5 separate regions of the Homo sapiens genome follow, and all the other regions are reported to be linked to region 4. Evidence: microRNA targets listed by miRTarBase, many of them from high-throughput screens and not tested one by one. Region 4 holds a microRNA gene; each other region holds the end of a gene's coding sequence.
Evidence for each region. The annotated mature microRNA hsa-miR-381-3p reads UAUACAAGGGCAAGCUCUCUGU and lies in region 4 at 1,073-1,094, shown strand. An mRNA with a match to its seed (bases 2 to 7 or 8) in the 3' UTR can be bound and repressed. Matches are read on the target gene's strand: a 7mer-m8 pairs with bases 2 to 8, a 7mer-A1 pairs with bases 2 to 7 and ends in A, and an 8mer does both.

Region 1: the mRNA of UTP15 is a reported target of hsa-miR-381-3p. Seed matches in the 3' UTR shown: 7mer-m8 at 818-824.
Region 2: miRTarBase lists ARL1 as a target of hsa-miR-381-3p. Seed matches in the 3' UTR shown: 7mer-A1 at 3,275-3,281.
Region 3: miRTarBase lists CLTC as a target of hsa-miR-381-3p. The part of its 3' UTR that is shown has no 7-base or 8-base seed match.
Region 5: the mRNA of LURAP1L is a reported target of hsa-miR-381-3p. Seed matches in the 3' UTR shown: 7mer-m8 at 3,418-3,424 and 7mer-m8 at 2,671-2,677.

Annotation. Positions count from the first base shown.
Region 1 is chr5:73,579,658-73,583,713 of GRCh38, forward strand. UTP15 (UTP15 small subunit processome component) reads left to right here. Exons shown (of 13, transcript NM_032175.4): 13 at 220-3,723. The coding sequence ends at 437. Among named protein-coding and RNA genes, the nearest start is that of UTP15, 16 kb to the left of the region's middle.
Region 2 is chr12:101,392,015-101,396,070 of GRCh38, forward strand. ARL1 (ARF like GTPase 1) reads right to left here. Exons shown (of 6, transcript NM_001177.6): 6 at 1,102-3,656. The coding sequence ends at 3,626. Among named protein-coding and RNA genes, the nearest start is that of ARL1, 14 kb to the right of the region's middle.
Region 3 is chr17:59,693,040-59,697,095 of GRCh38, reverse strand. It overlaps CLTC (clathrin heavy chain), which reads right to left. Exons shown (of 32, transcript NM_004859.4): 32 at 140-3,368. The coding sequence ends at 3,244. Among named protein-coding and RNA genes, the nearest start is that of PTRH2, 12 kb to the left of the region's middle. RefSeq lists an enhancer at 345-394.
Region 4 is chr14:101,044,896-101,048,963 of GRCh38, forward strand. MIR381 (microRNA 381) reads left to right here and starts at 1,025; the gene lies at 1,025-1,099. MIR381HG (MIR381 host gene) reads left to right here and starts at 262. Exons shown (of 3, transcript NR_104192.1): 1 at 262-289. It overlaps MIR487B (microRNA 487b), which reads left to right and starts at 1,560; the gene lies at 1,560-1,643. MIR539 (microRNA 539) reads left to right here and starts at 2,426; the gene lies at 2,426-2,503. It also overlaps MIR889 and MIR544A. RefSeq lists enhancers at 870-1,370, 1,371-1,871.
Region 5 is chr9:12,821,164-12,825,219 of GRCh38, reverse strand. It overlaps LURAP1L (leucine rich adaptor protein 1 like), which reads right to left. Exons shown (of 2, transcript NM_203403.2): 2 at 2,160-3,834. The coding sequence ends at 3,460. Among named protein-coding and RNA genes, the nearest start is that of LURAP1L-AS1, 8.8 kb to the right of the region's middle.

The DNA.
Region 1 (4,056 bases), not on the chromosome of region 4:
AGGAACTCCACCCTATACTTTCTGTAATTATTATTTTTTGAAATTAATTTACTCAGAGGGATTGTTATACTTTCTATAAATCATTAATTAATTATAAAATAAGTACAGATTTTTCAGTGTTCTTATGTTTAATATTTTTATACTTTTAAAAACTTTTGCTTTTCACTTAATGTATGGAAAGATATTGCTAGTTAATGTGTTTTCTTTCTCTCTTTTTAGATATATATCTGCCTGTAATTGGTCAGTCCCCTGTAGTTGATAAAAAGTTTTTACTACTTCAAGGACTTGTAGAAAAAGAGATTGATTACCAAAGAGAATTGTTAGAAACCTTGGGGATGATGGATATGCTTTTTGCCACCATGAGAAGGAAGGAAGGCACTTCTGTGTTGGAACACACATCTGATGGATTTCCAGAGAATAAGAAGATAGAATCATAGTGTCTGCTAAATAAGACATATAAGAACTCTGAAGTTGGAATAGATTTGACTGTATTAAATGTTGGCGAGAGACTCTCTTTGATACATTAAAAAAACTGTTTGCAGAAGCAGTTCTGTGGAAGAGACTGGAATAATTATGGCCGGAAAACAAGTACCCGTTTTAAGTAAGACATGGTTTTCCATGTAATATTTTGAATTATAGCATCTTCACCTAGAAGATCTCAATTGTCTTAGTCACAGAGTAGGTTTATCTGGGATGGATATTAATTTTAATACAGGAGTGTTCTGTATCAACATTTGGGTTGGTATTCAGATGGGAATTCAAATATGAATCCTCTCTGGAGAGGGTCCAACTGGGAATCCTGCTAAAGGAGCAAAGCCTTGTATTACCTCTGGAAGACAACAAAAACAATTGGCAACAACAAAAAGCCTCTTTCTTGACTTTAATCAGTGCCTTTGGGATTTCTAGGCCCTTGCTTAGCTTGCTTCCTGTCTCCTTGATATCTACACTTGTCTTAGATCACATGCCCTGCTTCAGCTGGTAATGGGACTGCATCGGTTCCAAGTGTGGCAAGTAAGTTTTCGGCTCTGAAGAACTGACACTAGCTAGATTTGTATTCAGAGTGTGAGAGCAAGCTCTACAGATAGACCTTATTGGACTACTTTTTTTTTTTTCTTCATGCAGCCTTTCTACCAAGTTTTCACCTTGTTTCAGGTCAGAGGAATGATAGAATTTGTCATTTTTCTTACAACAGCCTTTCAGACTATTCTTCATATGTTTCAAGCTAATCTTGTAGCTAAGCTACCTAATCCTCTGAAAACTGTTTTCTCTGATTTGTATTTAGATTCCTCCCCCCATTATTCACAATCATATTGTATTTCGGAACCCCAATGCAGAGCAGTTTGCTTTGAAAAATAGTTGTTTTTAAAAGTTTAATGTAAATAATTATTTTTTAGAAGTTTTTTTTTTTTTTTTAAAGACAGGGTCTCGCTTTATCGCCCAGGCTGGAGTACAGTGATGCAATCTCAGTCCACTGCAACCTCTGCCCTCCCGGGTTTAAGCAGTTCTCCTGCCTCAGCCTCCTGAGTAGCTGGGATTACAGGTGTGCCCCACCACGCCTGGCTAATTTTTGTAGTTTTAGTAGAGACGGGGTTTCACCTTACCGGGCTGGTCTAAAACTCCTGACCTCAAGTGATCTACCTGCCTCTGCCTCCCGAAGTGCTTGGATTACAGGTGTGAGCCACTGTGTCCAGCCTGTAACTATTATTTTTTTATAAAGAGAGATTCTTATTTTCTTGGCTTTTTGATGTATCTGTTCCTGATAGATAATCATTGGCTAGTAACTCCTAGTACACTGGTTTCACAGTTGCTACCTCTCCTGCTTTTCTCTAATTATTACGCCAACTCAAGTAGTTAAAAATCAGTAAGAAAAATGTCTTGAGCTAGAAGAACCCATAGAGGAAGATTTTGTAATGCGAATCTCCTCTCATAATTTTAGTTCTGTAAATTCAGGGTTTTTTTTTGTTTTTTTGTTTTTTTTAAGCCGAAAAAATGCTTAATATGTTCCAGTAAGGGTATTAAGTAAAAATTAAATAAACGTATTAAGTTTAACATATTAAATTAATTTAACATTTAGACTAACATTAACATTTAAATTAATATGTTAAGTGAATATACTTAATATATTCTAGTACAGGTATGCTTGGAAATAGGGCGTTTCCTTTTCATGAATTGATTTCGTACAGCACAGTGGCTTATAAGGAACCAGCAGTGTTTTTCCCTGAGTAATTATGAACTTAGTCAAGATCAGAAGCTGGGTTTTGGGGTTGAGAAGAGTTCATTTATTTAAATAAAGTTTCTATTTAAAAACCTTTTTAAAAAGTTAACATCATAAATATTCTGATAATTTGCATAGTAGTAAAAATTAGAAGTTGAAATTCTACCTAAAGCTGTAGTTGCCGTCAATTGTGTAACATGTGACAAAGGTTTTCCCATATGTCATTTCATTTGATTCTCACCACAACCATCCAAGGTTGATGTTATTCTCATTTAACATTGAGTTAACGAAAGTAGTTGATTCACTCTCGAAGTCCCTGAGTGTGAGCTCTTCATCCTAGCACTGTGAAGTGGTTTGCCTGCTGGGGCCTAAACTCCTCATTCCCTTTAACAAAGCTTCACTGAGTGCTGCAGTTCTCAAAATATGTAACAGTTAACACATTTTTCAAACAGGTTAGGAAGCAATTCCCATAGCCATCAATACTTAAATTCAGGAGTACTTTTTTGTTTGTTTGTTTTGTTTTGTTTTTAGAGACAAGGTCTCTTTCTGTTGTCCAGGCTGGAGTGTAGTGGTGTGATCATAGCTCACTGCAGCTTCTGTCTCCTAGGCTGAAGCTATCCTCCCACCTCAGCCTCCTGAGAAGCTGGGGCTACAGGGATGAGCCACCATGCCCAGCTAATTTTTTATTTTGATTTTTTGAGATAAGAGGTCTCACCATGTTGCCCAGGCCTGAGGCAATCTCCTGGTTTCAAGCAATCTTCCCACCTCAGCCTCCTTAATGACTGGGATTAAAGGCATGAGCCACTGCGCCCAGCAGGAATGGTTATTATATTCATTGAGATAAACTGTAGTATTTGCTGTTTGAAGTATTTAAACATAATTGGCATATTACAATATGTGACACTGGCCTTAAGATTCTAATTTAAAATGCTTAACAGACTTTTAGACTTATGAGTTTCAGTTGAAAGGTATTTTAAAATGTTACTAAGTCTGCAAAAGTACTGAAATGTTTCAGAGAACTTGGAAAGTCACCGTATGTTTAATTTATTATGTTTATGAGATTTAAGCACTTGGGAAGGTTTATGCTAATGGGGTCAAGCATTTGCAATGCTGCTTAAAAGAATCATTTTTTTAAATGTATAAATGCTATTAAGTTGTTTAAAGGAATTTGAATTGTAAATGGGATTGTTAAAACAAATTTAGTCTGTTCAACTCAATGAGGGCATTTCATTTTCTAGGAACAAAATACCCTCTTAGACATTAAAAAGCCGCATGCCTGTTCCCTCAGCTATAGTTAACTGGACCATGGTGGTACAACTGACTCAACCCTTCTCTAAGCAGGGATTTGTAATTGGGATTTATAATGAAATTCCTGATCTGGGAAAATGGGAGGCTGGGAATGCTATGTCTAGGTCATCAGCGGAGAAAGTTGGTTTGTAGAGAATGAACAAGAATGAAACCTAAGTGCAAAGAAAATAAAGATTATCCTGCTTTAATAGTTCAGACTAGAGGAGAGAGAAACCATCTTAGTTCCTGATGACTTCCTATTGCCCTATTCTGGTTGTACCTCTTCCCCCAGGGGTCCATGATATTTTTGGATTCCCTCTAACACTTGTTTGCTTAGTTGACTGTGAGTGGTTTTCTCTTATTTACAACCAAATGACTCTGAAAACACTAATCCACTGGTCCTGATATTTATTGAGACACATTAGAGGCCAGGGTATCAAGGTTATAGCAATGAACAAAATAGACAAAATATCTCCCTCAATATTCTGATTAGGGGAGATACTCAGTGAACAAGTACATATGTAGTGGGGTCACGTGGTGCTAAATGAGATGGA
Region 2 (4,056 bases), not on the chromosome of region 4:
GGGAACATCACACTCTGGGGACTGTTGTGAGGTGGGGGAAGGGGGGAGGGATAGCATTGGGAGATATACCTAATGCTAGATGACGAGTTAGTGGGTGTAGTACACCAGCATGTCACATGTATACATATGTAACTAACCTGCACGTTGTGCACATATACCCTAAAACTTAAAGTATAATAAAAAAATAAAAACAAACTAAAACTGTAATAAGTCACACTTATTTAGAGGTGGCTCAAGTTGTTTCTGTTGTTCAACCACATAGCATCTTTTGCCTCACCCTATACTTGATGTGGAAGAAATATTCTTTAGTGCCCCATATATTTGGGGACATATGGGGTGGGAAATCCACCCTATGTGCCAGGCACTTTGGATACATTTTGTTTAATCCTAGTACTCCTGAGAGATTTCTACAATTGGTTCCTATTTTACAGATGAAGAAACTGAGACTCAGAGTAAATAACTTGCCTAAGGGTGATACAGGATGTAGGTGCTACAATCAAGATTCAAAGTCCATGCTTTGAGCTGAGCGTGGTGGCTCACACCTGTAATCCCAGCACTTTGGGAGGCCAAGGCAGGTGGATCACTTGAGGTCAGGAGTTCGAGACCAGCCTGGCCAACATGATGAAACCCTGTCTCTACTAAAAATACAAAAATTAGCCGGGCGTGGTGGCACGGCACCTGTAGTCCCAGCTACTCAGGAGGCTGAGCCAGGAGAATCGCTTGCGCCTGGGAGGCAGAGGTTACAGTGAGCCGAGATCGTGCCAATGCACTCCAGCCTGGGTGACAGTGAGACTCCATCTCAAAAAAAAAAAAAAAAAAAAAAAACAAAAGTCCATGCTTTATAATTTGTAATTACGGGCTTAGAATATGACAGTATGTGGCACAGAAATCAAATGTTCATTCACTTCAGCATCTGTGCTTTGATGTAGTGTGTATCTCAAACGGGAATTCTCACGCTTCTAAGGGCTTTGTAATTTATCAAAAGGAGGCCATCTTAGAAGACTGATTTTAATTAATTCTAAGTGACTTAAGTGCATGTATTGCTTTCATAAAATTTTTAAAAATAAAATACTAAGGCAAAGATCAGAAAGGACAAATATATCTGGCATATTGAAGACGTCTTTGTTTTTAATCAATACATATTTATTGAGTGCCTACTGTGTGCCAGGTGCACCACACTAGATGCAACGGATACTAACAGTAAATAAGATACGGTCCCTGCCCTCAGAGCTTACATTTCAACAGTTTAAAGTGCATCTCAGGTATTTCAGATAACAGAAGTAATTCTACCACTCTCAAATTTTTTTTTTTAATGCAAGACACAACACAATCATAGGCCAGAGTTATAAAATACAATGTTAGAAAGAAACGTTTGGTATCATTCGTCCAGATCCCATTTTACAGAAAAGAAACTACAGGAGTGGCCATTTGCACCTATGTTCTGATTTCAAGTTTGGTGTTTTACCCATTGCCAGGCCTCTCATAAAACAATATTCAGATTTGCCATGTATATATCAATATCCAAACGCTGGTAGTATACCTGTGCAGTTGTCTCCTGCTAGACAAGGACCATATAATTTATAGCTTATTTAAGTGTCCACTTTCTTTATCCCATCCTATTCTTTGTGATAAACCAGAGGGATCAGGCTTAACCAAGTGCTGAACTTTGGGGCAACTTCATGCCCTAGGATTCAAGATGGCCAGCGGCTACATGCCGGGTCTGCCTGCCAGGACCTTACTTCCCATTTTTTGCAGTTTTCCTGGACTGCCGGGAGGCAGCTGTACAAGCTTTATAAGCCTCAGGCTGTAAGTGAACTTGCTTTCTGCATTTTCCAGCCATGTGCCATTGACCAGGAGTGAACTCAAGTATAAATTGCAAAGGGCTACTTGTCAAGATGACAAATATCTATCCTACTGTTTCAACTATGAACATATTCTGAAATGCCATATGCCAGGCGCCATACCAGATACTAGGGACATAAATATGAAAAAGTCTTTGCCCCTCAGGAGTAATATTGGTTGTACTGGAACATTTGTAGCTGAAGGAAAATCTCCAAAAAAGATTTCAAAGAGACTAAAGTAGGAATGGGTGCTGGAGAATGAGCAAGAAGGGTGAGAGTCCCACGGGTGAAGGGAGAAAGCAGCAGAGAATGAATATAAGCCCGGAGAATGAACATAAATGTGAGGGGAAGAGGCCAGAGGCCAACACTGGAAGGACAGTGAGGGCCAAGAAAGGAACTACTAATGTTTCTGAGACCTGCAGGGAACCATGGTATTAAGCTCTCATTACCAGCACCTAATTTTTTAGAGGCTGGTTTTCCAACTTAAGTGAAAGAAATTCACCCTGTTTTTAGCAATTATGACGCACTATATTTACTTCTGTCACATTAGCTGATTCTGTGGTGGACTGGGTAATTTGAAAAGCTCCTTTGAACATGAATTGTTTTTAAACTTACAGTCTAGCAATAAGCCTAATTTTTAAAACAGAATGCTTAATTTCTCCCTGTACAATCAGTAAGATTTTGATTTTTAACAAGTTTACATGTCCAATTACATGTAGATAAAAGGAATGAAAACCAGTAAAGACACCTTTTATAATCTGAAAATAGATTTTTAAACCTTCCTTTAATGTGAAATTTTCTCTTTAATGTGTTATGAATTCTATCAAATATAACCATTTAGGATTATTTATAGTATGTCACTGATCACTTCTACTAGTATAGACAAATAAATTTATAAACATTATTTTGAATGTAACTAATTAGCATAATTTTATTTAAGAGTTAGACTGTGTTGTCAATACTGACATTTTTGGGAATATATAGTATAGTTTATGAGTCAAGCTTCTGAACCAAAAGTTTTACTTTGAGCCCTATTCCTACCTTACAAGCTAGCAGGTGACCTTGGGCAAGCCAACCTATTAGAACCCTGGGTTCACGTCCATACAGTGAAGACATCATAACCTGTCCTACCTACTTCACAAGCTTCCTCTACCGATCAACTAGATCAATATATGTAAGATTTTTTTTGACAACTGTAAAGTACTATAAAATGACACTTACAGATAAGTCAGTGAAGTTAACCATCAAAACAATATTCATGCCTATAACCAAAAGCTTTTAAACAAAACAGCTTAATAAAAAGTGGTCAGGTAAGCAAATAAAGATTATATTACACAAACTATGTTCCTCACCTACTCTCATACTGAGTCTAATCTTTGGAAAGATAATTCATTTTAAGGGGAAAAAAATCTGTTAAGATATTTTTTAGTATTTATACAAACAAGCTGCAACTACTATTCAAAAATAGGTTTTTTTCATCCAATAGGAGTATACTCTTTAATAGAACTGTATTTGAATAAGAATTCCATACAAATAGAATATATACCTTAACACAAGAAAGCAAGAAAAGAATATTTTACATTACATAGAACATTCAGGTGATTCGATCAAATTATCCCTCCAACTAAATACTTATTTTCCCTATTTACTACAAATATTGCAGTCAGTCAGTATATGCCAATAATCATATAGTTTTAACATCTAGTAGTGTGAAGTACACTTGACTGTTTCCAAAGGGAGAGAGGTGATGTAGTCTTCATTTCAGGGGAGAAGAATGGACTGAATTACTGTCTGCTTTTTAATGTTTCAACTAACCTGTAAAGAGAAAATGAACTGTTTTATAAAATTAATTTTCAGGTATAAAGCATGATCATCTATAATAAACTTTGTATTGGAGGTGGATTCCAAAGTACTTAAAATGATGACAGCTAACACAGATGAGGTTATGCACTAGATATCCATAAGGTTCCTCTAAGCTTTGAATTTGTCTATGATTTGAATGAAAAATTCAAAAAAGACCAAATACCTATTTTCCAGGCTACTACTACTTCTGGGCTACATATGGATGACTCAGAGGTGAAACTAGTCTCAATCCTCAAGGAGGTGATTATCTAATGAGTAGATGAACAAATCAAACTTACAAGACAGCAAAACAAGTACTATGTCACTAATCTGTGACAAGGGCATCTAACTTTAAGTGAGTGATTAGGCAGTA
Region 3 (4,056 bases), not on the chromosome of region 4:
GAGGTCGAGGTTCAAGGGTATTCCCACTAGAGGCAAGCTGCAGTTTGTTCCCCTGCTGTCACTTTTTGGGTGACTGATACAGCCACCCTCAATGGAGTCCCATGGTTTATAACCTGTTTAAATTTTGTCTCCAGGTTGAGTTTTATAGCATTGATACAACCTACTGTGCAGTGTTTCATGTTCACCTTCCCTGACCCATACTGGCCAAAGGTTAATCAGCAGTGGTTCTAAATCACAGCCTATTAAAGTTTCTCACTTCCCCCCTTTCTTGTAACAATGAAGCCACTGAAACTTGAGTAACCTTATGGACCTTAACAGATGGAAATGGGTGGGCCCAAGTAAGAATTTATGGTAACTGTAAAGTGAACGTAGTTTGTCATCCCTGCTAGTATTTTTTCCTAGAACTAACTTTGACAATTAAGGGTGCCTTTTTTCCCTTTTGATCTTTAGATACACTTGATACAATCCTAATAATTACTATGTTATACCAGTTACCCAGAATATGAGGCAGAGGGTCCCAACTCCCCAAGCCACATAGCTTCCTGATAGTCATCTTGTTAGAAACTATTTAAGCCTTCTTTTAGGAGGATACTGACAGTAATTTCTAAAATCAGTGTATCCCCAAGAACTGTAATGATGCCAGGGAGAATTTTGGTAATAGGCCCATTTTAAGTGGCTCCACCTCTCTATGGTTAACTGCAATATAAGCAGCGTTATAGCACCATCTCAAGGTCTAAGGTCATTGGTGGAGTATTGTGGGCAGAACACTAAAGACAGCCTTGAAATTTCTAATATTTGATTCATTTAATACACTTCGCACAGGCATATGACAGCACAGGAGAAAAATTGCAACTGTGAATGATGCCACAATAGCAACTATTTCTAAACAGAATGTTTACTGGCTGCAAAAGTGATGCAACAAAATGCAACGTTAAGACTGAGTTGAACTCAGTGCTAAGTGCATGATTCTGGCTCAGGTAATTTCTGAGGTTTGCCTCAGATAGACTGATGGCTCCAAATTCAAAGGTAGTGGCATTCCCAACAGGATGGCATGGGGTGGCTAAGTAACTGTCATGGCATATCTACTAAAAGGAATACTATGAAAATTCTGGTAATTGTGGATATATGCTTGTTTTCTAGTTCATCTGTACTTGGTATTTTATAGAACTCATAATCTTATAGTTTTCAAAGTATACTCTGCAGAACCCACAGGGTCTCCACAGAGTCAATGTTTTCATAATACTATTATTATTTTTTTTTTCTCTGTGTTGATATTTGCACTGAGGGTGCAAAAGCAGTGGTGGGGAAAACTGATGGCACCTCCCACAAATCAAAGCAGGGGCACCATTGTATTCTTCACTGACCTGCACTCACATTAAACACTTTCACTTAATGTCCTGGATGAAACTAAATAGGTTTTTTTGTTTTTTGAGACAAGAGTCTCATTCTGTCACCCAGGATGGAGTGCAGTGACGTGATCTTGGCTCACTACAACCTTTGCCTCACAGGTTCAAGTGATTCTCATGCCTCAGCCTCCTGCCTCCTGAGTAGCAGCTAGGATCTTATAGGCATCCACCATCACACCTGGCTGATTTTTTATTTTTAGTAGAGATGGAGTCACCATGTTGGTCAGGCTTGTCTCGAACTCCTGGCCTCAAGCAATCCGCCTGCCTCAGCCTCCCAAAGTGCTGGGATTACAGGCATGAGCCACCACACCTGGTGGGACAGGGATTTTAAGTTTTAAAAAACTCTTCTGTGGAGCTTATGTTAGGTAATTTGCCTAAGAGAGTTGTAAAGCAGTGCAAGACTAACTAGGCAAGGGGGTATGTGTAGCTATTGAGGATTAAGGGATAGTGAAATGAACTTTAGGAACATTCTCAGCCATAAGCAAGAGCTGGATTCACACAACCAATTTTTGAAAAAAATCAAGATACCCATAATTTGGGCACCTTTATAATTCATGATGAGAAAGAGCATGTTAACTACATGTTTAAATATATTTTATTTCAAGTTAATATAACAGCCATGATTTGTTCATTTAAGTGAAATGCTTCGATAAAAACCTCGGTGTCACTTGGTTAAAATATTGGAGACAGATTAAATGTTAAGCCACTATAGTAGTGACTCTGGTTCTTTAGACTATTGCATGTACCTTGTTAATGAACTACAGGAATGCACATTGATATAATGCACAATGTCTTCACATGTCTCAATCCTCATTCCTCTTCCTTTCATGCCTCCCTAATGCCTCAGTATCCAATATAAAACTACAAAAACTACTGTTCTTTTCGTTTGAGTGGTATTTAATTAAAACTTCAATTCTATGTTATTTCCACAGTCCAGTAATTTATTTTAAATTTGAGTAATTTCAAATTCCACAAACAAAACTGAAGAACAGCAATATTTTGTTTGAATTTCTCTCTTCTGTACACTCAGTGATCTAAAACACCACAATATCCAACATACACAAACCTCAGGGAAGGGTTAGTAAACACACACAAGATTGGAATCATGGTGCTCTTTGCTCCTGAATGGAATGGTCCCACAGAAAAAGCACAGGATACAGCACAACATAAGGGCACCTGTTACATATGAAGTGAGCAAAACATACTAGCATTTTCTATATGCATAATGGGGAAACCTGCATAGGTTAGAGGGCCTTTTACGCTCATTTAAAAATCAGGCAAGTTGTCTGTAACATTTTTCAATAATCTGGGAAGCACTGCAATCCAGTGTACGATGTGCTGATTAGTGTTGTCTTTGTTGGCACTGACAGTCTTGCATGGTCATATGCCAGTGTTTTTGCTTTAGCTTTTCTTTGAATAAAACAGATTTAAATGCATTTAGACAATACGTATTTGTAAGCTGTTTACATACACTAAATTTAAGAGATTCAATATTAGAGTTTCTTTGTTTCTTTAAACACTACAGAGTGCAAATCAGGTTCTTCACAACAGATTGAATATTGAGCAGTTCTTTAAAGAAAGAGGGGGAAGAAAAAAAGCCCAAGTGAATAAAACATTGAAACTATTCCCCTTCGAAAATAAATTCTAAAATGATGTGGAATGTGAAATAAGGTTTTAACATAGGTGATCCAAGTTTATAGTTAGAAACAAAAAGAAGTCCTTCATGAAATAAAGGTTACAAGAACACGTTGCCTGTTTTCCCCCATTATAAACTGAGAAGTGGGTAAAGACGATGTTTCAGTACGAAAATAGGTGACTACAGGATCAGCGCTTCATCTCACATGCTGTACCCAAAGCCAGGCTGTGGCTGTCCATACGGTGGTGCGGTATAACCATAACCAAAAGGTGCCTGGGGAGGGACGGCAACACTGGGTCCTGCTGTCAGCATCAACTGGGGCTGACCTACAGTAGAAGAAAACAAAAAGGAGCAGGGGGCAGGGGCAAGGAGGCAGGACAAACTGTTAGCATTTAGAACACTCCAATCTCCTCCACTCTAGCAACATAATCTCAACCTCAAATGAGTTGTATGGGGGGCACATTTGATTGCTACAATTTTAGCATGACAGTCTTACTCTAAGAAGGTTCCTACCTAAAAAGCCAACAAACAGTGCAGGGCCAAAGGCCAGAACTGCTTATGACTGAACACCGTATGCCTGACACTCTGTATACTTGACACATACCTACATGCATATTACACTTCATGACACAATAAAATCAGCACAATAAAAGAATTTTTTAAAAGACTTTTTAAAAAAAAAAAAAAAAAAAAGAATCTGGCTCTGTTGCCTAGGCTGGAGTGCAGTTGTGTAATCTCGGCTCACTGAAACCTCTGCCTCCTGGGTTCAAGTGATTCTCGTGCCTCAGCCTCCCGAGTAGCTGGGATTATGGGTGTGCGCCACCATGTCCAGCTAATTTTTGTATTTTTAGTAGAGACAGGGTTTTGCCACGTTGGCCAGGCTGGTATTGAACTCCTGGCCACAAGTGATCAGCCCATCTTGCCCTCCCAAAGTGCTGGGATTATAGGTGTGAGCCACCATGCTTGGTCTAAATGACATGTTTTTAACATAACTTTTAGAGTTACATTTAAATT
Region 4 (4,068 bases):
GAGCTGTCAGCCCCGCACCAGGTGCGTGCATGTGGGAGGTCAGAGGGCGCCTGCTTCTGCCTCGATGTCTGTGCCCCGTCTCTGACTGCTGGCTTTCTGCTCACACCTAGGATGGCTGCCTGAGAATGGGACTCTTGTTCTGTGTTTGTGGAGACACTCCTTGGGCCGTGTGACTGCCGGCTTTTTACACCCCGACTGCCATGGGGGTCATCTGGACCCGAAGCCAGCTTCAGGAAGGACATTCGCAGCATCCTCAGCCCAAGGAAAGCGAACGTCCAGCTGAAGAGAGGTGAGCACCACGCCTGGGTAATGAGTCACATAACCTGCCACCTGGACCAGGCGGCTCCCGCTCCTCTCCCCTTCTTGAAGGAGAGACCACTGTGGGGAATGGGCTGTGGGTCTGCTTCCTCAGTTACTTGGGGGTACGTGGGGTTTACTACTGTTGACCCTGTGCTCTTTCTTAGCATGGCTTCATGGCCACGATGCCAGCCTCTGGCAGGGGTGGGGCAAGGGCTGGCATGGAGAATGACACTGGTGTCAACGGCTCTGTGAGATGGATGAAGGGATGGTGACCACAGGGCCTTTGCTTTGTCTAAGGTGTAAATTCATCCAGTGCCTGGGACCTCGGTGCTGAGTGCATCCTTAGGAAAACTTCCTGGAGAGGTGCCCACACTGGGAAGGAGATGGTGGTCCCACCCCAGGGAATTCCTATAGAAAGTGAGAAGCTGAGCTCTGCGTGTGCCCAGGAAGGCCCGTGGGGTGGATCTCCTTTTCAGGAACAAGTTCTAATCTGGAGTGATGCCTGGAAAAGAGGCTGATTCTGGTGAAGGGGCACTGGCGTCTGCCCCTTCCTGGCCCCTTTGGGATGGAGAGCTGACCTATGGGCACACAGCTGGCAGGTGGTGTTTGCCACCTGGTCTGCTGATCCCGCATCTCCCACCCCCTCCCCCGCCAGGATGAACCCCGGGAGAGGAGGCCGGCCCCGTGAATGATAGTGAGGAACCTGCCCAGTGCTATTGTTTGGTACTTAAAGCGAGGTTGCCCTTTGTATATTCGGTTTATTGACATGGAATATACAAGGGCAAGCTCTCTGTGAGTATCAAACCTTGTCTTGGACCCAGTCCACACTCAGCAAGGGATGCGGTATGTGTGTGCATGACCGTGTGTATCCGTTTTGTGTGTGGCAAATCGTTCACGGGTCCCCACTTCACAGAGAGGACTTCACGGGCACCTGGATGACTTTAGGGAAGGCAGTGGCCTCTGGGACATCCCCTCTCCTGGTGCAGTGTGGGCGGGGCCAAAAGCATGCACGATGTGTGTGGTCTGGGTCCCTGCTTCCTGAGCGGGAAGTCATCAGCCCGGGCCGATGGCTGGGGTGGCGCTCGTGTGGGGTAGTGGCTTTGTGGTCCCTGCTGTTACTCGGTCCGTGAGTGTGCATGTTCTGCTTGGGGTATGTGACCCGGTCCACTAACCCTCAGCATCTAATTCATCCCCAGGACCGCGCCTTGAAGACGTACCAAGTCCACCCAAGGCAGTGGCTTTCTTTTCCGTGCTAACCTTTGGTACTTGGAGAGTGGTTATCCCTGTCCTGTTCGTTTTGCTCATGTCGAATCGTACAGGGTCATCCACTTTTTCAGTATCAAGAGCGCAGACTCTGGAGCTCGATTTCCTGTGTTTGGATCCCACCTCTGACATTTACTAACCGTCCAACCTTGGGCAAGGATCTCATCGTGCTGTGCCCATTGTCTCACATGTCAAAGGGGAATCACATTGGCGTCCATTTCTTGGGGCTGCTGGGGCTGAACGAGTTAAGACTTGTACACGGCTCAGAGCAGAGCCCCGTGGTCGGCACTTCGTAGGTGGTAGCCAGGACCCTTGTGTGCTGTGAAACTATCATTGGTGGTGGTGGTGGTGGTGGTGGTGGTGGTTTTATGACTAAAATCTCTCCATGGGTTTTTGGAACAGTGTCAAAACATGGAAGTCAAGTCCTTCATCGGGTATGGAATGGACTAGGAAGCCCAGAGCATACACGGTGTTTACAATGGGGGCTAGTGATGCTCTTGATGCTTGGCAGCTAAGCCATTCACACAGTGGCTTTTGATACAGAATGCCACATGCAGTGGGGGTCAGCAGGGGTGCCGAGAACATTTGCTCCACTTAAGAGAGACAGTCCCTGGGTTCTTGACCTCGGCCACTATCTACGCTTTGAAGGAGTCTTGAGCGAGGATGCCAAGCTGAGTGAGGATTCTATGGCATCTTGCTTCCCTGGTGCTTAAAGAGAGGTCAAACTTGGTGCATGCATTGTGCATGCCTGTGTGTGCGTGGTGTGTGTGCATGAGCGAGTGTGTGACTGGGTTTGCCACGAAGCAGTCACCATCTAACCTTGAGCCAAAGACCTGGAGGTGGTGGTCCGTGCTGCTGTTTCATACTTGAGGAGAAATTATCCTTGGTGTGTTCGCTTTATTTATGATGAATCATACAAGGACAATTTCTTTTTGAGTATCAAATCTTGCCTCGGCAGACTTCCTGGACGCCATGACAAGTTCTGTAAAGGGATGCACGCATCAGCCCTTCCCAGGGGCTCACGCCTGGGTGGGGATGAGGGCGCATGCAGTTGGTTTGTGGTGGGGACACTTGTGCCCTAACCTCAGAACCCTGGAGGCGGGGCCACGCTTGGCAGGGGGCCACGGGACTCCTTGGTGCTATCAGGGATTTGCATTGGCCATGGGTGTGTGTTGTGGGTGACGCAGCATTCAAGCTACTTATCAAATCCTGCTTCTTGGAGGCACTTCTTGGACATGAAGCAAACCTTAGGGACCGATCATTGGGGCCAGACCCCCTTCCCCTGCCCAAGAGTGTGACTGACCCCCAGGCATGGGCTTGACTCTCAATGTGTGAAGCTGACCTGCTAATCCTCATTGTTTGGACTACCTGAGAAGAACTTTCTGGAAGAGACACCAACTTTGGAGAAGATGCCCAGCTCTTCTTGATGGCACAGTTCTTTGGTGCTTAAAGAATGGCTGTCCGTAGTATGGTCTCTATATTTATGATGATTAATATCGGACAACCATTGTTTTAGTATCCAAATTTGCTTCAGAAGTTTTTGAAAGCACAGTGCTGACTTCAGTGAGGGGACATTGGTGCCTGCCCCACCATGGAGTGTGACTGTGTTGATGATTTATAATGATGAATCCAGTGATCTCAGAATGCAAGCCACCAGTGTGATTTCCTTGGACAAATGCTAGCTTTGGGGTGGAGATGCCATTTAGGGGCTTGGTGCCATATCTTTTTATTGGAAGATGTTCACAATTATTTCATCTCTCTTTCTCTTCTTGTTATTAAATCTTAGCCACGAGGAATTCCTTGGAGAGATGCCGGGGTCAAGCCTCTCTCTAGGTAGATGGTGGACCGGGGAACCTGGGTCCAGCCTCTCCTATCTGTAGCCTTCATTCTGAGTATGAAACACTTCCTGTAGGGAATGCAAACATTAGTAAAAACTCCGTACATTTCCTGTTACTATTACTACTTTTTGGCAGCTCCTAAGCAGCTGCCTGTTGGGTATTTGGATTATTCTTGGTGGACGTGGCATGGCTTCGTGCCTTCCTTGGGAACCACCCCATCTTAGACAGACTCTCATGGAATAAGACGTTGTGGTCGACAGCACCTCTGGGGTGTGTGTGTGTGTGTGTGTGTGTTTGTGTGCGTGTGCATATGAATAGTTGGCTAGAGTAGTGTTTCTCAAACTTTAAAAATGCTCCTAAGATTTTCATCACCTAGGGATCTTGTTAAAAAGCAGATTCTGATTCAGGGACCAAGATTCTGCATTTTTAGCAAGTTCTCAAGTGATGCTAATACCGCCGGTCTGTGGACAACACTCACAGTGGTTTGGGGCTGGAGACCAGGTGCTTTCCCTGTGATATGTGTCGCCTGTCTCCCCACATGCCATATACCGTCCATCGTGGGAGAACGGCCCAGAATCAACGTGCCATGTTTTGGTTTGTGAACAAGGGTTCACTTTCACATGCGTAAATAGCATGAGATTACTTTTCTTTAAAATCAAATCATGCC
Region 5 (4,056 bases), not on the chromosome of region 4:
TTGCTTTGTTGCTCAGGGTGGACTCAGACTCCTGGGCCCAAGTAATCCTTCCATCTCAGCTTCCTGAGTAGCTGAGACAACAGGCATGTGCCACTATGCTAGGCTTAATAATCATTTGTTGGTTGTCAGGACGGCTCATGCCTGTAATCCCAGCAGTTTGGGAGGCAGAGGTGGAAGGATTACTTGAGTCCAGGAGTTTGAGACCAGCCTCAGCAACATAGTGAAACCCCATCTTTACAAAAAATAAAAAATTAACCAGGTATGTTGGTGCATGCTTGTGGTCCCAGCTACTCTAGAGGCTGAGGCAGAAGGATTGCTTGAACCCTGGAGTTGGAGGCTGTAGTGAGCCATGATGGTGCCACTGTATTCTTCCTGGTGACACAGCGATACCTTGTCTCAACAAAACAAAACAAAATAAAAAAATATTTATTTTGTCATCATGGAGGTGATTGTGTTTCTTTTTTGTGTGTTTTTTTTTTTGAGACGGAGTCTCACTCTGTTGCCCAGGCTGGAGTGCAGTGGCCTGATCTCGGCTCACTGCAAGCTCCACCTCCCGGGTTCACACCATTCTCCTGCCTCAGCCTCCCAAGTAGCTGGGACTACAGGAGCCTGCCACCACACCTGGCTAATTTTTTTTGTATTTTTAGTAGAGACGGGGTTTCACTGTGTTAGCCAGGATGGTCTTGATCTCCTGACCTTGTGATCCGCCCACCTCGGCCTCCCAAAGTGTATGTGTTTTTATGAAGTTGTGGAAACAAATGCCTGAATGCAATTATTTGTGGGCTCCAAGTACCTTTATAGTCCACCCACAGTAAATAATGTTTTTTGCATTTCCAAACATTGACGAATACTTAAAACTTTACACTATGTACTTTGGGGCTGGCTGGTAGTATAAACATTGTTTCCTTGAAGTTTAGTTAAGACTCCTAGGTTGGTCTTCTAGAGTTCCTTTATTTGCAAAACTCCAAAAATGTACTAGTTTTAACTTGTCTAAATTCCTTACATCTAATTATTTTCCATCCATTAAAAGACTAACAAGTCCATAAAAATTGAGAGATTAATGTAACTCAGGAAAATTCCATCTTCTCTGGGAAGACACAACTCAGTGTAGGCAGAATAGTTTAAAAAATACTATAACTTTTTACCCCTTTTCCTTCTGGTGCTGACAGAGATCAAATATCAAATGGTCCAGGTCAGAGATTAGTTATGGGGATTCTTCAGTTAAAAATGGTGCACTCCTATGCACTCACTCTCTTGAGACCAATGAATATGTTAACAGTTAGTGTTGCTTAAATGTTTATTGCCTTCCTTTTAGTAAAATCAATTATTAAAAAATTGTTGGCTTACATGTGATTCCATATATGTAAATGGTGGAATCTTTATTTGCTATCTTGCAAAAAATATTGGAATTAATGTAAAGCATATAAAATATTGAAACTCATAAAGCCAAAAACATTCTCAAGTGTTCTGCCAATGTTCATTATAGTTTCCTTAAAATACAATATATAAATGAAAACTATTCCAGACACTTCTCCCACATTATACTCTTGTGCTTTTTGCATTTCCTTTCTCCAGAGGGAAAATTTATAGAGGGCATGGGGTGGCCATATAGCAGGGGAAGCGGGTTGCACGAGAAGAATGTAACAGAAATTTACCAGATTGTATTCACGATCTGAAACTGATCTGAGAACAGAAATGGCCTTTCATGTGCATGGCTTGTTCAAGGCAAAGGGTAGGTTTTAAAGAAGTTAGAATTTGCCTTTGATGCCTCACACTCTTGCAGCCTGCCACTTCTTTGTAGTTGAGGATATTCTCCTTGCAAGGTTGTGGACATATGGTTACATATTTCATTATCTTCTGTTTGAAATTGGTTGGTTACATTTTTAATTTTTGTTATGAGCTTACATTTGCTTTCTCATTCCCATTTTATTATTTAACATCAATAATTACCAAAGAGGTTATTGAGTGTTATTGTTAGGAATAAGACAGATGCAAGTTTAAATCCTGGCTTTGACACTTACTGGGAGACTTGTCTCAGTGGCCTACCTTCTATGTGCCTCAATTTCCTCAAACATAGGATGATGACAGTCCTCACATTATGAGATTGTTGTGATGAGGATTATATCAAGCGACTTATGGGAAAAGATCAGTGCAAAATATAAGCCCTGATATATTTTAATTAGAAATTGAATAATACATGCCTTGGAAATAAACAATAATAAATTCAACATGTGTAGTAAATATATAATAACAAAGGAAATTTGGGTGAAACATTTCTCAGTTATAAGAAGGAAGATTTTTTGATTTGTATTATAGAGTGTTTAGTCCGGAAACATTTATCATTACAAAGAACAGCATGAAATCTTAATTAGATTCCCTCACTAGGAGTTATCAAGATAAAAGAAATGCAGAGGATTAATAACATTATATTTAAAGTAAATATCCACTGTCTATGTGCGTTAAATATTCCATTTCAGAAAACTTAGAGATTATTTATTTATACTAGGATGAATGTATATCATATTAGACTTCTTAAATGAATAACAATTCTGCTTTAGGGAAGCAGTAGTAGGATGCTGATAGTAGGCTATCGGGATATTTATCTGTCTTTCTATCCATCGGCTTGTATGCATCTAAGTATTTATACATCCTATCAGAATCACAAAATACATACAAGTAAATGCCAACAAAATCTCAAAATGCAATTAAATTTAGGACATTTTTGCCTTGAATGGCCTCCATACTTAATCTCAATTATTCCTTGAAATTTGGGAGAATAATACATTTTATTACACAAATAAACATATGATTTGAGTTAGAATCACTGATGACAAAATGTTAATCTAAAGTACCAACACAAGGGTGAGTTGGTTGAACAGAATGTGTATAGTTGGGGACTTTCAGATGATTGTCATGTGGGCGTGTGTGACTAACAGTATGGTTGATTATACACTAGAATGTTGTGGTCTAGAAATAATGCTTAATTTTGTTCCAAGCATTTTGTTCAACCTGATATGCAAACAGTAATATATCTCAATATCTTCTGGAAGATGAAACCTTAAGTCATTTAAGGACGCAAGCAGCAACATTAACTGTTATCAGACTTTGGTTTATTGTAAAATTTAGCAAAGTTTTTCTTGTAATCCCTGACCCATTGCTCTGAAAACAAAAGCAAAAACATAATTATTGCTTATTCTTTTCCCCCTACTTTGTTTGTGCTACTGTAAAAGAAGGGAGAAAATCATTGTAATAAATAAAAAATAGAGATGTAACAGAGAAAAATAAATCAGCTCAGATGAGAAGTATTAGGAGCAACAGCAATACCATTAAGCAGTTTCAAAATCAGCTTCTTTTAAAAAGGTCATCTTATTAAAATAAAAATCACACCAAAAATATAGCAGCGGAGAAGAAGGATAAATACAAGTTCATTGCACACCAGTCCCATGCAAAAAACTGTCACTAGCCAAAGCAGTAGTATTCAGAATCCAATTTAGGACGCTTGTGTAGTGCCTGTGAGTCCTCTATGAGGGAGCTGTCACTGAATTGGTCCAAGTCTGAAGGGGTCTGATGGCCTGGGACATCATCCGCCAACGTGTCCAGATAACTTCCCACGGAAATGCCATCCAGCCCATCACTGCCATCGTGTAGGCTGTTGTAGCTGCCACGTAAGGAGGTGCTCTGACTCTCCAACAAACTGCACAGGCTGCCACTGAGGCTGCTGCCTCTGCTGGTAATGGTGGCTTTTTCTTCGATCATCCACTTGATGGACTCGATGCTCTCATTGATTACAAGCAACTGGCGCATGAGCCTGACGTCTGTGGCTCTGAGGTTAACCTATGGACAAAGAGAGAAGAAAGATATTCCAGCCATTTTACACTCTCGAAAGGCCTCAAATTCATCTGGGGACTGTCTGCTGCAGTTCAGAATTTTAAATTCACAGAATAAAATATAAGTGGACTGGTTGTCAGGAACTTTTTGATAATTGCTGACTGATGGTAGGAGTTATAATAAAAAAAACTCACTTCCTGCCAGATGCATCAGGCTCCAAAAGGCACA